Regions from separate parts of the Homo sapiens genome. Here region 2 is linked to region 1. The links come from fine-mapping of genetic effects on gene expression. Tissue or cell type: skeletal muscle. Region 1 holds a variant in brackets; the other region holds the start of a gene. All regions are shown on one strand. Distances are from middle to middle. Region 1 overlaps SMOC1 (SPARC related modular calcium binding 1). Region 2 holds the start of TTC9-DT (TTC9 divergent transcript).

Region 1 (2,905 bases):
GTGAGCCACAGCTCCATGTCCCCTGGGTTATGCCAATATTCCTTACAACTGAAGAAAGGAGAGCGGACATGGGGTGGAGTGGGCGTGGGGTGGATATCGGTTTATCCAATTTTACAGAGGAGGACATGAACTCTAAAAGAAGGTGACAGCCCCAAGGCAGGCAGGTGGGAAGCGGCAGAGTCAGGCTGCTGACTTCAAATCCCACCTTTCCTCCACTCCCTCCAGCAGCTGCTTCTCTCCTTGCTGAGTAGAAAGGTCAGCACATCTAAAAAGGAGGTGCACAGCAGTCCTGCCCACCAGGCTGAGATGTGTGAAGCAAAATGGACAGCTAGCCGTAACCAGCTCTTTTTCATGGAGGCTTATGTGCTAATCCTGTTACCTAAGTCCTATCAGTTAATCCTCAGAGCGACTTTATTTGAGAGTGATAAAATTATCTCCATCTTAGGATGATGAAACTGAAGCTTGGAGATATCAAGTAACCCACCCAGGATGGCACAGCTTCCATGCGGCAAAGCAAATTCCGACCTAGCTAGCTGCCTCCAGAATCATGCTCTGAGCCATCAGGGAGGATGGAAGAGAAGAAGGCTGAGCCCCAGGCAGTTGGCATCCTCAGACAAGGCAAAAGAAGAGCGGATAGTTCTGAGAAAAGGAGGCACTAGACCCCACCCCGCCTGCCTCACAGGACAGTGACAATGATCCCAGTGAAGGTGCTTTATAAATTGGGAAAGTGAAGAAAGAGGCATGTTATGCAGAGAATTCAGCTCTCCAGGGAGGAGTCTGGTTGGTAAAATATCTGTGATCCAGTGGAATTTCCAAAAATTCAGTCCCTTGGACCCAAAACTCTACTGGTCCCCAAGCTCGGCATCCTTCCCCCAGCCAGCTTCTGTCCCCACCTAGCATGCAAGCCCCTCGCAGCCCACCAGGGGGCACCGCACGACACGGGATGGATGACCGACGCATAGGCTCTGCTCCCGGAGCCCCTGCACACCATTGACCACAGGGGCTTTTTTCTGCCGCCCTGCAGAGCAGAGGGATGGAGGGGGCAGTTCTGAAACTCATACCTTCTTTCCCGGACATGTTCCTCTACCGCTACCAATTTCTTTTGTGCCTTCGCTATGTACCAGGTACCGTGCTAAGTTCTTCACACACATTATCTGATTACATCCTCACCAAATCGTTGAGGTAGGTACTATAATCTCCACTTTGCAAATGGGGAAACGGAGGCTTAGAGAGTTTAGGTAACTTGCCAAGGATTAAAGATCCGGTAATTGTCAGAGCTGGGATTAAAATCAAGCCAGGCCCATCTGACTTCAGGGCCTCTGCACTTACTCCAGCCCCTACTTGTGCCTGATCATGGTATACCCACACTGCTCCTGGGCCTCTCAATAGTGGTCCGTCATCCCATAGGCACTGCCTGCCTGGAAACTGTGGGCTTCCCC[A/G]CTCAGGTTGCTGGTGGCACCCTCACCCCCTGCAACACCTCTACTCCTGCCCACGCTGCCCCCAGGCTGGTCTGCTCCCCCTCTTCCCCAGACTCCCCCACTGGCCACTCCCTTGGCTTCACCAGGCAACCAAGACTGGCCTGCTCACACAAGGCGACATCTTCAAACACACTGGGGTCCTTCTCCTGGAGGGGACAGCAGTCTGGCCCAGGAATCCTGAGGCTGGGCCAAGCGCCAGCAGTGGTGGTACCTCACATGTACCCTTGAGCAAATCGCTACTCCTCTCTGGGCTAGCCTTGACTCCTAGACTGCAAAATGGACTAGAGGACCCACAGAGCCTTCTAGCTCTGGGCTGCTTGGGTCCAGAGCAGTGTGTCCTGTGGTGTGTGTTGAAATGGAGAGTGGGGACACAGGAATCCTTTCTGCCTCTGCATAGGCTTTAAGTCTACTCAGCCTCCACTTCACCCCACCCCATTGATTAATCCTACATACCCTCTTCCTCTTATCTCAATGTTCTACTCTCCCTCACTCCATCACACTCATACACACACATATGCAGACACATGCACAGACATACACAGACATATGCACAATGCATGCACACATGTGTATAGACATGCACACATAGCCATACTTAAAGACATAAGTGTAGACCATGTACAAACAGACACAGACATGAACACAGACAGGTGCACACTCAGGCCTACCCACAGAGACATGCACAAACAGACATGTGTATATACATTCAGAGACATGTCACAGACACGGGCTTTCTGGCCAGACTTTCCATAGTCCTACCTTTGAGGTGAGAGGTTCAAGAGGGTGTATTGGGCCAAGAAGAATGACAGTTGCACTCCAAAGCACCCTAGGGGCCTCTGTGGGCAAAGCTATGAGGATAACTGAAACTAACACTTGTCTGCAGCTGAGCCTGGATTGAGGAGGAACATCCAGATGACCAGGGATCCCTAAATCTACATTCTACTTCAGTTTTCTCTGGATGCTTCTGTCAGGTCCTGTATGTCAGCTGGGACTGGCAGACACCTGGTGCCTGGAAAGGCTTCAGAGGAAGGCTAGGAGGAGTCCCTGAGCTCGGTGGATCTGAGCTCACCACACTCAGCCATTGCTTGGCTTCCGTGTGCTGTGCAGACCAGAACTACTAGCACGGGAAGGGGGCCGAAGGCAGGGGCAGTACAGAGCATCATCGCTTAGCCCAGGAGTGCCCCTGGTATGCCTGGGGTCTACATTGACACTGGATGGTCTCTTCCCGACATTGGCCATCTGACTGTGCTCTGCGAAAGGACCACAAATTCCAAGCGTGTCAGAGCATAATGTCACCGGAAGGGGCAACCCCCCCATCCATTCATTCCTTCACTTATTCATTCATCTAACAAGGACTTAATGAATTACCAGGTGCCATGTACGGTGCTAGAGGTTAGGAATTGAGAGAGAGAATCCTTTTGGCTTCA
Region 2 (2,905 bases), 610 kb before region 1:
GCCATAGCCAGGCCAGCTGGGTCCCCTTCCAGTCATTTCTAGGTGAGATTTACGATGTATGCTAGCGAAGGGACAAGAGATGATTATGGCCTTTGAAAGGCATAATCCTGAAAGTCACACTTTTTCCAAAGCGCCTCCCTCCCGGGTTCTCCCCAGAGCAACACAGTCACAGCAGGAGAATCTGCACCGCGGGAGCGCCGCAGTGGTCCGCGGAGGGACCGGGCCGAAGAACGGGGACCGCGGCGCGGGGGGCGCGGCGCGGCTCACCTGCCAGGCTGTTGTAACAGTCGATCTCGATGGCTTCCACCGTCTTGCTCTGCTCCTCCGAGAGGCGGCCGGGCTTCAGGGCCCCAGCCGGGGAGGCCGGGCGCGAGTCCCGCTCCCGTTCCCCGGGGGGCGGCAGCAGCCCCTTCAGCTCCAGCAACGCCCGGTGGTATTTGCCTATGGCTTCACGGAATTTCTTGTCCTTGTAGCACTGCGCCCCTTGGCTTTTGAACTCGTGCGCTCGTCGGATGAGCTCGGCCGGCTCGGCCGCCGCCCCGACCTGGCCCCTCGCTGGGGCTCCTCCGCCGCCGCCCGGGACGCACAGCGGCGGCGGTGGCCGCTGCCCCTCTCCGGCCGCGGGCGGGCTCGGGTTCCCCTTGGCCCCGGCCGCCGAGCCCTTTCTCTCCATTCGGCCGCCGCCCCGGCGCCTGGTGCGCGCCGCGATCTGCCCGCCGCCGCCGCCGCCGCCGCGCCTTCCCGGGTTTAAAAGCCGCGGGCGCCGGCCCCGCGCCTCGCAGGCTTCGTGGCGGCCGTGACACCCCGCGGCGGTCTGGCGCCCCGCACTCCCATTCTCCCCGCTGCTGCCAGAGGCTGCTCCAGCCGCCGCCGCCGCCGCCTCGGACGCCGGCCCCTCCCCCGCCTCCCGGCTCCGCGCCGCCCGCTCCCGCCCTCCTCCCTCCGCAACCTGCGGGTGGCGGGGGCCGGTGCTCGCGGGCCCGGGACTAGCGCTGCGGGGGGACCGTGGCCCCGAGTGGGGTGGCGGGGATGGTCGCTGACCCGGAAGAAGCTTGGCTTGCCCGAAGGAGGGGAGGATTAATGACAAAGACGGCCCCGCTCTTTCCCATTCAATCCCGCTCTGCGAGGCGCGCCTAGTCTGAAAGGAGGTGGGGGGAGGGGGGTAGGTGTAGGGGAAGGGGAGTGTGTGTGTGTGCGTGTGTGTGTGTGTGTGTGCGTGCGTGTAGGGATGGGGGGCGGCGGCGACGAAATGCGTGCAGAAATAGATTTCTTAACTACAAGAAAAGGTGCGGCAGGGAACAAGGGGCGCAGGCGCAAGCCGTAGCTGCTAGTTCTTTGCAGTAAGGTGTTAGTATTTTTTAAGGGGGCAGGGCCTCCTTTTTGTGGATCCAGGTTGTCGCTGAGGTGTGTCTCGGTGTGTGTGGTCGCCGGGGCGTCCAGAACGCGACGGGCGGTACAGCGTGTGGGGCGCCGTATTCTGGGAGCCTGTGTATGCGTGTGCTGTGTGCGCGCAGCTGTGCAGGATGAATCACAGACATCAGAGATGGAGAACACCTGTTACTGTGGGTCATCGGCTTGGCGTGCGTCCGGTCTAGTTTCCATTTACAGGACAGTTCTGTGCCCTTCCTCAGGAGGTCCCATTCCTTCCTTCTTTTGGTCGGTTCTGAGTGTCAGCTGTCTACTGGGGATCTGCTAAGGCTAAGAGGCAAAGATAGGCAAGTCACTCCCCTGACCTCAAGAAACTCCCAGTCTACAGGCGAAGATACACCACCCACCGGTAGAGTCGCTGGACCAGGTACAGATGGTGCCTGTCATTGGGGAGGAACGAAAAGTGCTGTGCAGCCCTGAGGGGGGGAGGGAGAGGTAGCTTTTTGAGTAGTGGTAGATCAGGAGGCTTTATGGAGGAAATAGCATTTGAGGACCTTGAAGGCTGGGTAGGATTTGGCATGAAGAAGTAGAAGGAAGTGGCATAGCCGGAGTGAGGAAATCCAGCGGAAGTCCTGATGTTTGAAATCTCAGGTGTGTTTAGGGCATAGTGGTTTGATTTTATAGCCTAATGAGAAGTAGTGGGAAATGACGGGGTTGGATTATGGGGGCTTTTGGATGAAGAGTTTGGATTTGATTTTGGAGTCAATGGAGAAGCCTGACATATTTTTTAGTGCCCTCCCTTCCTTAATGTTAAGAAAAAGAAAGATTCTAGAGCACCGGTTGTCAGAGTGCTGGCCCCAGACCTGCAGTGTCAGCATCACCTGGGAAACAGTTAGAAATGCAAATCCTAGGATCCTACTCCAGACTTAAGAAATCAGAAACTCTGAGGGTGGGTCTCAGTTAACCAGTATATTGGTTCAGATATGCTGCTTTAAAACCTTCCTACTCAAAATGTAGACCTTGGGCCAATATCATCAGCATCACAGGAGAACCTATCAGAAATGCAGAATCTGAAAATCCCACACCTACTAACCCAGAAGCTGCATTTTAACGAGCATACTGGGTGATTTGTTTACCTATTAAAGTGTGAGAAACACTGCTGTAGAGACTTTGGAAAATACAGTAAAGTATAAAGAACCCCCCAGTCTACACCCAGTTGTATTCTTTGTTAATATTTTGATGTAATTCCTACCAGTTGTTTCCTAGGCATCTATATTTGTAAAAAGTGCTCTTTTAGCCAACATAAGTGGTATGGAACAATATACACAATTCATTTACTGTTTGTTGTTGTTGTTGTTGTTTTCTTTTCTTTTTTATTTTTGAGTCAGGGTCTTTCTCTGTCACCCAGGCTGCAGTGCAGTGGCATGATAATTGCTCACTGCAGCCTCAAACTCCTGGGCTCAAGGGATCCTCTCACCTCTTACTTTAGCCTCCTGAGAAGTTGCAACTATAGGTGCACACCACTACCCCTGGTTAA

The links. PIP is the estimated chance that this variant, and not a neighbour inherited with it, causes the effect.
Region 2: it holds the start of TTC9-DT, and the variant in region 1 is the best candidate, but not a certain one, in a credible set for the expression of TTC9-DT in skeletal muscle (FUSION, PIP 0.88).

Annotation. Positions count from the first base shown.
Region 1 is chr14:70,026,016-70,028,920 of GRCh38, reverse strand. All of the region lies in intron 11 of SMOC1 (SPARC related modular calcium binding 1), which reads right to left. Among named protein-coding and RNA genes, the nearest start is that of SNORD169, 49 kb to the right of the region's middle. The variant A/G (reference allele first, on the strand shown) is at 1,440.
Region 2 is chr14:70,639,898-70,642,802 of GRCh38, reverse strand. TTC9-DT (TTC9 divergent transcript) reads left to right here and starts at 1,505. Exons shown (of 3, transcript NR_110071.1): 1 at 1,505-1,795. TTC9 (tetratricopeptide repeat domain 9) reads right to left here and starts at 887. Exons shown (of 3, transcript NM_015351.2): 1 at 268-887. The coding sequence starts at 673. RefSeq lists silencers at 333-402, 423-612, 833-982 and enhancers at 1,453-1,712, 1,813-1,992.